4 separate regions of the Homo sapiens genome follow, and regions 2, 3 and 4 are each linked to region 1. Evidence: fine-mapped expression QTL. A gene starts in region 1. Each other region holds a variant in brackets. All regions are shown on one strand. Distances are from middle to middle.

Region 1 (2,618 bases):
TTTGGATTCAGCTACAAACAAAACAATATGCTAAACATTTTTTCACATCATTCTCACCACAACCATACAAATTAACAATTGCTACTCTTGCAAATAAATAAACTGAGTTTCGAAAGATCAGATGATTTGCTCAAGGGGACAAAGCCAGTGAGCAGCGAGTCTGGACTCATTCCTTTTCCAAATACAGTCCCCTCCCATGGGCAGACAGACACACGATGTAAACCAGAGGCAGCCCCTTTCAACTGCTGAGCTTCCAGACGCAGAGTAGGGAGAATCCCAAAAGCCTCAACGACCCATGCCTCTTCCTATGGACTGTGAAGGCAAGTGAGCACAGTGTTCTGCAACTTCTTCCCCTTGCTCAGTCTGTTCCTGCTCAACCCCACTCTGTCCTGTTGCCCTTTCCTGTGGAAGGGCTGGAGCTAGTGCATATAAAAACGCTCGTGAAGACTTCTTGCCCTTATTGTACACTGCACCACATGGCCCATCACGTCTACAGCCCTGTGTGATAGGTGGTTCATCTTGCTGCACCCTAGAAAAGGCATTTTGGTGTCCAATACTCTCTGGTACCAGGATGCCCTGACTCATCCTGGAGTTCGCGAAAAGTGAAAGCTACGCCATCCCTCCATCAGTCTCGACCTTTTCTCGGGCATTTTTGATAGATGGAGGGACTCAAGAGTAGCTTTCTCTGGGTGATATACTTTTATTTTTATTTTATTCCCTGAAAAGGTACCCTTGACTCACCCAAAGGTCACACTGATGGGAGCTCAAAGAAAAGCTCGGAATTAAGCTCCTTTGTGATTGTATTTTTTCACTATAAACAGTGAAATTTTAACTAAGTAGAGTCTCATTTTGGTTATTGTAAAATAAACACTCCCAACTCCAGTCCCTGTCCCCACATCCCACCACCATCAAGGCGGAGAGCTGTGGCTTGTGGGTGGATGTGCCAGTCACCTCTGAAGAAGTGCTGGGATTCTACCCTCTCCCACTTCCTCCTGGCGAGTTTGTTTCCTGAGCCCTTACAGGTCCAACCAGGAGGGTAAAGCCCAGGGCGGTGGGAAGAGTCCCGGCCGGCGATTAAACTGGGCATGCTCAGTGGCAGAGCAGGTTTAGGCCCGGCCTGGGAAACTGGGGAGCTGAGGTGCTCGCGCCGCCGCTCTGAGCCCGAGTGCGCGCCTCTCAGGGGCCGCGGCCGGGGCTGGAGAACGCTGCTGCTCCGCTCGCCTGCCCCGCTAGATTCGGCGCTGCCCGCCCCCTGCAGCCTGTGCTGCAGCTGCCGGCCACCGGAGGGGGCGAACAAACAAACGTCAACCTGTTGTTTGTCCCGTCACCATTTATCAGCTCAGCACCACAAGGAAGTGCGGCACCCACACGCGCTCGGAAAGTTCAGCATGCAGGAAGTTTGGGGAGAGCTCGGCGATTAGCACAGCGACCCGGGCCAGCGCAGGGCGAGCGCAGGCGGCGAGAGCGCAGGGCGGCGCGGCGTCGGTCCCGGGAGCAGAACCCGGCTTTTTCTTGGAGCGACGCTGTCTCTAGTCGCTGATCCCAAATGCACCGGCTCATCTTTGTCTACACTCTAATCTGCGCAAACTTTTGCAGCTGTCGGGACACTTCTGCAACCCCGCAGAGCGCATCCATCAAAGCTTTGCGCAACGCCAACCTCAGGCGAGATGGTAAGAGACTCATTTTATTTTTTAACTGAAAAAAAAATCATGTTTGCTATTGTTATTGTTCTTTCTATGTTTTTCCCCTTTCTTTTTGAATCTTGAATGTGAACTCGGGCTGAATGCATTGTTTGGGGAGGGAGGTCTCCTGCCTGTATCCAGTCCTGAGAGAGCTCCATTTCCGGAATGGGACTGAGAGGTGTGGGACGCGTGCTGATGGGGATAGGATAAGCCAGGTGGCTCACCTTGCTGCACCCTAGAGAAGTCATTTTGGTGTCCAAGCCTCTGGTACCAGGATGCGGTGCCTCATCCCGGAGTTGGCGAAAGTTGCAAGCTGCGCCGCCCCTTGGTCAGACTCAACCTTTCTTAGGCAATTTTGATAGGTGGAAGGAGTCAAGAGTAGCTTTCCCTGGGTGATAGACGTTTATTTAAATTTTATTTATTTATTTATTTATTTTTACGAGTGAGAGGAGAAATCGTGCGTTTCAATCTAGCAGTTATATCTGGAACAGTGACAATTTACTATTTATTTTCGGGAAATGGCAGTGTGCAGCCTATTGCCCTTTAGGTCCCCTAAGTGACTTTCCTATTGAAGTTCACCCTGACTCAGAAGCTCAGAGTGTAGGAGACCAAGGCTTCTGGGGTTTCATCAGTACCACAGGGGCACCAGGCTTCTGCTGCTAGTTTCCTTGCAGAAGCGGCTTCCAATTATCTACAAGGAGCACAGCTCCTGAAACAGCTGTCCTAAGCAAGGTCCCAAGCCAGCTTGTTTGTTTTCCTTTACTCTAGAGGACACCTGGGTCACTGGTTCCAGAGACCCTAAGCTGAGTTTATTTACTTTCTGGGGCCTCCACCTAAAACTGTAGCTGATGTTCCCAGCAAATTTTAGCTGTTCTGCCATGTACCTGAACTGACCCATAGGCTTTTGGATCTTGTTTTTTCCTACATCAGTATCTT
Region 2 (2,618 bases), 420 kb before region 1:
CTTATACCACTACCTGGACAATGCAAGGACCTTACAACTTCAGCTCCATTTACTGAATTTTGTGCTACCATTTTTGTGTACATGATTTCTATACATATTTTCAACTCCACAACATATTGTTTAAGCAGTGAATATTCTTATCTTTTTACCTGCTTAATAATATCTTTTCATGTCTTTTAATGCGTCCTTCCCTGGATTAATCTCTCTGATTTTTGTTTATTTATAAGTGCCTTTTTTTATTTTTGAAGAAAATTTCATCATGAATAAGATTCTAAAATGAGTTCCTTTATTGCGATTTTCATTTTTGTTGTTGTTTTTTGAGATGGAGTCTCGCACTGTCCCCCGGGCTGGAGTGCAGTGGCGTGATCTCGGCTCACTGCAACCTCCGCCTCCCAGGTTCAAGCAATTCTCCTGCCTCAGTCTGCCGAGTAGCTGGGATTACAGGCGCCAGCCACTGCGCCCAGTTAATTTTTTGTATTTTTAGTAGAGATGGGGTTTCACTATGATGGCCAGGCTGGTCTCAAACTCCTGAGCTCATCAGCCGCCCGCCTCAGCCTCCCGAAGTGCTGGGATTACAGGCATGAGCCATCAAGCCCAGCCTGGCATTTTCAATTTTTTTTATATTCTACTTTCCACTGTTTCTGAAAGTTCGTTGGCAGTCTATCTCACTCTTGAAGGAAACATGAGTTTTATACAGTTGCTTTTCAAATTTTCCCTTGTTTTCAAATTCTTAACTACACCAATAATATGTGTGTGTGTTCTTTTATTTCTATTGGGGTATTTTGAAAGCTGTTTGAAGGAGAGGCTTTCTGGGTTTTTAAAAATTATTTTTAATTTTTTAAAGCTGTCTCAAAATGATTGCCCTTCATTCTCTTTTAATATTACTGTTTTTCTCTTTTGTCTTTCCTCTCGAGTTCTAATCACACAAAGTTCAGAACTTTTCATCATGTTGTATTTGACATCTCATGATATTTTCTGTATTTTAAAATTTTCTGTATTCTTTGTGTTTCAACCTCGGTATTTCTTGCTGAACTGTCTTTTAGCTCACTAACATTTGGTTCTGTGATACCTAAACCACTACTAAAACTTATATTACTTTCTTAATATATATTTTTCTTCTAACATTTGCATTTATTTAACAGATTGTGGTTCATCTTTTTCTCTACTTTGCATTCACCTTTTTCGCTACTTTGTAAACGCATTAATTATACTGATATTCAAGTTTTATGTCTGACAACAGAATCTCCTCTGGGTGTTTTACTATTGCTTTTCCTTTTCCTTTATTTTTTCTTCTTTTTGGGAGCTTTTTTGTCCTATTTCCTGCCATGACCAATTATTTTTTAAGCTGGATTTTGTAAATTAAATATATATATATATAT[T/ATT]CAATTTATATATATAAGTTAAATTATATATATATATTCAATTTATATATATAAATTAAATTTTATTTTATCTATATCTATATCTATATCTAATCTTTATATATATATATACACACACACACACACACACACACACACACACGTGATATTATCTTCTTCCAAAGAGAATTTAATGTAATTCCAGAAAGCTGCTAGAGTCTGGCCAGATCATCTTCATATAGCCTATTGTGCAGTTCAGGTTTAGTGATTCCTGCTCTAATTCTACTCTGCCTTTACTTTTAAACGTGACCCTTATTTTTTATGATATTGCTCTTATTGTTAAGATTAGCTCTTTAAGATCCTCAACTGAGGTTTTTTTCCTGAGGCCCTTCTTTTTTTGTGGGATGGGGCCTCTAAAATTGCTTTCCCAGCACTGTGAACTGGACAAATCCTTTGCCTGTACTTCACAGTGCCTCACGCCAAGCGTGTGCATTTTACAAGTTGGCAAATGCTCCAAGGAAAATTGCATGTAATATTTGATGCTACTCCTCTGAATGTCCTCTCCCCCGTACCTTTTTCCCTTAAATCGTGGTTGCCCCAGTTCCTGAAGTCTGATTTTGTTCTCTCTATCTAATGATATTGGTCACAACTCAAGGCTATTACTTTCTCTTCAGGCTCCATCATTATCACTGAGAAACTGTAAATAAATAGGGAGAAATTATAGAGGCAAATTTGGGGTTGAGCTCAATGCAATTTCCTCTTCTATAGGTCTAGTCCCCACAATTCTTGGCTGTCGTGATTGTTTTCTGTGGGATCCAAATAGCTGCTTTGCTTTGTTTCTGTTTTCTATCCAGGTTTTACACTTACTTTCTCCAAGGATTTCTTTGATACATCTACTCCCTCATAGATGGAAACAAAACTTCCAACTCAGATTTTAAAGACATAAACTGTAATAGCATTTGCTTCCAATTTAATATCTTACTACTCTTGATCTATTTGCTCATTGTGTGTCTTGTTATCAAAATGCCAAAATGCAGAGATATTGTGAGAAATATTAAAATGCTCACATTTTGTCCTCTTGTTCTAATGACATACTAGAGCAATTTTTTCTTATTGGATGACCTCTGAAGAGAGTGGCTGAGCTATTATTGCCCAATGAAGAAAGGTTAGAAGGAAAAGCCACAAGCAAAACTGTAGTAACTGGAGGAAAATTGCTAGTGTAATTCCTAGTTTGACTGTGATATGAAAAGGGGAGCCTTT
Region 3 (2,618 bases), 210 kb after region 1:
CCTGTTAACTGATGATAACCAAAAGTAAAAAGGAATTTTTAATGCCCATACGCATGAACTAATAGAAATTAAATTGCAGGATCTCTCATTTAATTACCATTTATCCTATTCCAAAATGATCCTCCCAGCCTGGAGGAGAAGACTTCAAGTTGTTTACTTGGAGGGATGAAGTCCTATGGACTGAGTCAGGCAGTTGCCCCCAGGAGGTCTCTTTCACTGATGTTAACCATGGTGTTTGGCAACAGTATTTTTTCTCTTTGTAAAGTTTTATCAGCTCTGTCATAAATTCTTAGGAATTTATGAAAACCTGTACTTAGCACAGTCTGAAACTCACGACCTGTGTGCTTGGCACTCAGTTCCAACAAGTTCACCTAATGGGCCCAGATAGCAAGCCTGCTTTGGAGATCCAAAATGTGCCAGCTGCCTTAGTTAGTTGCTAGTTGAGTGGGGAGTGGAAAGAGGAAGTACAAAGTCAAGAATATACGAATCTCCCCTTTTGTGAGAAGAGTAATTTGCAAGGGTATGAGTCCTATGCTTTTGTTTCAGACTTTACATTAACCATCTCTCTAGTTTAACCACATAAATGACTCTGGAAATCCCCTTAGAAAGAAGTCAGGTCAAGAAAAAGGTACTTTGAATTACTTGTTTTCATTTACATAGCTGTATAGTAGTAACATGACTCTTAAATATTTTATATTCAGTATGGCCCATAGTGCCAAATGATAATTATGATGGGTGGCAGCTCTGATGAATGAACACTGGTCCAGTGTAAGGATAAGGATGAATGTGTAGAGGGAAAAGGTGTCACAACGCAAAGTCACCTCACTAGGAAATACCCATATTTTTAAAAAGAATGGACAGCTTTTTTAATACTTTACAACTGACACTCCTGATTCTCTTAGAAAATGTTCCCGTTTACATTATAATCCCATCACTTGCTGAGTAACATTTCATGAGTGCTCTTTTTCATGGAACCGTACCAGCTGTGTTGACTGTGGCTTTGGCTTTTAGACTTCAAATGGTATTTTCTCCCTAAAGTCAGATCTTAGGAGTTTTAATTAGTAATGGAATAATTTGAGTTTTTAGAGATAATGATTTTAGCTAAGGGATTTTGGTGACATGGCCTTAATCTTCATACTGTTTGTAATTCCCATTTTCTCTAATTACTGGTTTTAATAATGTAACTAGCTTTTGGCCACCATGAAGAAAATCTATTTATATAACGTCAGTCAAGTACAGAGAAATTTAGCAGTTATTGGGAGTGTGAATTTCAGCACAGAGGCGTGAAATGGTTTGTTGAATTCTGAGCATGAAACAGTATTTCCTCTCTTAACCACAATAATAAAAACAAACCAAACAAACAAAAAAGAGTGCTTAC[T/C]ATGTACCAGGCACTGTGCTTGCAAGAAAATGAAAATATGAATCAGGTCAGTATTTCTTCATTTCAAACTTGTAATTTTCCTAAGGTGCAGGAATAATTTCCTAAGTCATTCATTTTAGCTTGGTATAAACAATCTTTAAGATTAGCTTAGCAATATCAAAAGTACAATCTTTAATAAATTTCAGACCACTGGTGAATTGAATCAGATGTTCTCTTTGAAATGCATTTAAGGAATTTATGAAAACCTGAACTTAGCACAAATCAAGAAGATTCGTTTATTTTATAAAAAGGATTATTTATAAAAGAAAAGAGGAATTATTCAACAAAGATGAAAGAGTACAGAGACTCAGCCACGGTTTCAGGTATCTGTGGCACTTCCTTAATAATAGGGCTTGCATCCTGTCTTTCTGCTTCCTCATCTTTTAAAGCTACTGTAGAAATGATGAATGAGATAATTTATGGAAAGTATTTCATATAGTCACCGGCATAAAATCTGTGCTCCATAAGTGGCAGGCGTTACTGCAAAATAATTAATCACAGAGTTTTTTTTTTTAATGCTAAACAACTAGTCACAAAATTTAAATCTGAACCTAGCTCTTCGGCAACAGATTGTAGAAATACTGTAGTATTTCTCTAGGTGTAAATTAAATGTTCACTTACCAAACACCATGGAGGTTGGTGAACCAACACCATACACCAAACACCATGGTATGACCAAACACCATGGAAGCTATTAACAAAGTAGTATTTTGCAATTTGCAACTTTCTGTGCAGCCCCTTGGTATGCGGCACCCCTCTCTCTATCTGCAAACACGCTGATCCTCTCTAGTTCTTGAATATCATTCTCATGACCCCTTTTAAATCAATGACCCCCTTCTCTTCTCAGCTTGCTGGACTGGGATTTGCTCTAATCTTTACTTACTATATCGAGAACAAATTCCCAAACTAGCCAGTTTTCCCAGCACCATTTATTAAATAGGGAATCCTTTCACCATTGCTTGTTTTTCTCAGGTTTGTCAAAGATCAGATAGTTGTAGATATGCGGCATTATTTCTGAGGGCTCTGTTCTGTTCCATTGATCTATATCTCTGTTTTGGTACCTGTACCATGCTGCTTTGGTTACTGTAGCCTTGTAGTATAGTTTGAAGTCAGGTAGCGTGATGCCTCCAGCTTTGTTCTTTTGGCTTAGGATTGACTTGGCGATGCGGGCTCTTTTTTGATTCCACATGAACTTTAAAGT
Region 4 (2,618 bases), 58 kb after region 1:
TTTTAAAGGGCACATGTGATTCGGTCTCTTTGGGGATAATCTCCCTTCTGATGAACTCAAACTCAATTGATTAGGGACTTTAATTACATCACAATGTTTTTTAACCTTTGTCACATTTTATATTCTAATCATGGAAGTGGTCTCATCTTCAGAGTCCTGCCTACATTCAGAAGAGGGCATTGGCCGGGCGTGGTAGCTCACGCCTCTAATCCCAGCACTTTGGGAGCCTGAGGCAGAAGGATCACTTGAGGTCAGGAGTTTAAGACCAGCCTGGGCAACATGGTGAAACCCCCATCTCTACTAAAAACACAAAAATTAGCCAGGCGTGGTGGCACACACCTGTAGTCCCAGCTACTTGCGAGGCTAAGGTGGGCAAATTGCTTGAACTCGGGAAGCAGAGGTTGCAATGAGCCGAGATCATGCCACGGCACTCCAACCTGGGCAACAGAGTGAGATTCTGACTTGAAAAAAAAAAAAAAGGCATCATACAAAGGCGTGGGTCACTGAGGATCATATGGAATTCTGGCCACCGTAATTTCTAATGAGGAGGACTTGCTTCATCTCTACTGCTAGTCTTCAAGTTTTCTAAAGGCCTGGAATTAATAGTCTTTGTTTAGCTTCCTGTATACAACAAAGTTCCTTGCACAGAATGGGCAATCTGTGTTTTCTGAATAATTGAATGAATGTGGACTTTTTGTCTTTGTGCGTCAGTTCCAGCATCTCACCCAAGATGGTTTTGGCATAGGATCAGTGTTAATATCAATGATGCCTATTTTTAGAAACACAAACAGAAGTTTTTGCTATCACTGGAAGTTATGCTGATGCACAGGTAGTAATCTTGTCTCTGAAAAAATTAACTATGTCTTATGGTATTAGTTTGGCTATACTTCTTTGTGGTTGTTATCATTCCTCAGAGCTAAAAAAATGTGAACATATGCTATCAATTAGTGGGTTCATGAGGAATTTTGCAAACAAATACTGCCAGAGTGCTGAAAATTGGAATTAC[C/T]TCATCTTGTTTACAACTATCGTGCGTGGAGGTTTGAGATTACATAGTTTATTAATTATGGTTAGAATTCTTTTAAGTCATCTACCAATGATTTACTCTGCTCCTCAGTTCAGAAATATAAGTTTCTAATATATGTATTACCTAAACTCCCTGTGGTGCTGGTTTAATTTTTTTAAATGAAGATTTAACAATACTTCTAAAGTAACTCTTTTGTAAACACTATGCTTATTTGGACAACTACACATGCCATTCTGGATTTCTTTGTAGACCTGTCTCAAATGCAAGTGTTTTTTCTTCATAATTCATGATAATACTAATATCTACTTATATATAACACTTAGAAGTTTACTTTTCTTTTGGAGAAGTATGTAGTCTTTTCCAGCAAAACTTTCAAAAAAAGTTTTCCAGCAAAACTTTCAAAAATTTCCAGGAATTATTTTACATGGCAGTTTTTGTACTTCTTCCATTTTTATTGTCAGTTTCCTTTATCTCCATGAGACATTATTTTCCTACTGTCATTTTGGAAATTATGGCTTTCACAGCTGAATTATATGAGCCATCACCTCTATACAGAATATTACTAACTCCACACCGAGAAAAATGTCACGTAAAGCTGAATAAGCGTTTGGAAAATATGAAAGCATATACAACCAGGTGGTTTAAATAATTGGAGATACAAATATCCTTTTTTCTTTTAGTCTTATGTGAGTTAGATAAATAACTGACCAAATGCTTTTTCTTACCCATGTAAACATGGTTTATTTTTTTTTCTCCATAGTTTGCTCTCAACTTTAATGCCTTCATCTAAGTGAGGTGACTTTATCTAGCAGGCATTTTATTTGTGCCTGCGACTTGGTTAGTTCATGTAATTTGAGAACACTAGTTGTTAACAAAACATGATACAATGAACTGTGTGTACTATAATAAAGACTGGAATTTTGGGGCATAATTTTAGCTCTTCCCTCCTTCTTGCTCAGCTACAAATGGAGCAGAAGATTCCAATCAGAGACCTGAGGTCAAAACCATACCAGCTGTTACCTCTGTGTGATCCTGGGCAAGTTACTGTCTGGGTGATCTTCATCTGTCTCCTCATTCTGTGAAATGATAATCACGGATCCCCCATTAATGGGGTTACTTATATGAGTAATGTCTGTAAAATGCTTAACACAGTGGCACATACGTTTCACATAAATGTTACCTATTTGCATTTCATTTCATCTTTTATGATGCTGGTATACATGGTGAGCAACAAGAACAAAGTCCTTATTGGTGAAAAATAAGAGTTCTCCTATGTAGCGTTCCCATAGATATATGTAAATTTGCATATGGTATCAGTGTTTGAGGTAACAAACAGCTGTTTCACAAGGTAGTTGTGAATATTACCACCTGTTTCTGGTGATAGGTAGTATTCAGAGACTTAGAATCTTCTTCAGAGAAGTTTCTGTGTACAATCATGAATCACTCAACAATGGGGATACATTGTCAGAAATATAGGCATTTTCTTGGTGAGAATATTAGGTGGTTTCGTCATTGTGTGAACATAATAGAATTTACTCACACAAACTTAGATGGTGCAGCCTACTACATGCCTAAGCTATAGATGGTTTGTAGC

Which allele goes with the higher level. Alleles are on the strand shown, and positions count from the first base shown. SD is a standard deviation of normalised expression in the study named. Not every link is listed here.
As copies of T replace ATT in region 2, the expression in skeletal muscle of the gene that starts at base 1,327 in region 1 goes down (small effect, 0.29 SD a copy in FUSION).
For the expression in fibroblasts of the gene that starts at base 1,327 in region 1, allele T in region 4 goes with a higher level than allele C (small effect, 0.10 SD a copy in GTEx).

What was found. PIP is the estimated chance that this variant, and not a neighbour inherited with it, causes the effect.
Region 2: its variant is fine-mapped to the expression of PDGFD in skeletal muscle (FUSION, PIP 0.95).
Region 3: its variant is fine-mapped to the expression of PDGFD in whole blood (TOPMed, PIP 0.98).
Region 4: its variant is fine-mapped to the expression of PDGFD in fibroblasts (GTEx, PIP 0.95).

The regions. Positions count from the first base shown.
Region 1 is chr11:104,162,856-104,165,473 of GRCh38, reverse strand. It overlaps PDGFD (platelet derived growth factor D), which reads left to right and starts at 1,327. Exons shown (of 7, transcript NM_025208.5): 1 at 1,327-1,670. The coding sequence starts at 1,547.
Region 2 is chr11:104,585,328-104,587,945 of GRCh38, reverse strand. All of the region lies in intron 1 of LINC02552 (long intergenic non-protein coding RNA 2552), which reads left to right. Among named protein-coding and RNA genes, the nearest start is that of LINC02552, 23 kb to the left of the region's middle. The variant T/ATT (reference allele first, on the strand shown) is at 1,380.
Region 3 is chr11:103,957,365-103,959,982 of GRCh38, reverse strand. All of the region lies in intron 3 of PDGFD (platelet derived growth factor D), which reads left to right. Among named protein-coding and RNA genes, the nearest start is that of PDGFDDN, 52 kb to the right of the region's middle. The variant T/C (reference allele first, on the strand shown) is at 1,379.
Region 4 is chr11:104,104,608-104,107,225 of GRCh38, reverse strand. All of the region lies in intron 1 of PDGFD (platelet derived growth factor D), which reads left to right. Among named protein-coding and RNA genes, the nearest start is that of PDGFD, 58 kb to the left of the region's middle. The variant C/T (reference allele first, on the strand shown) is at 1,007.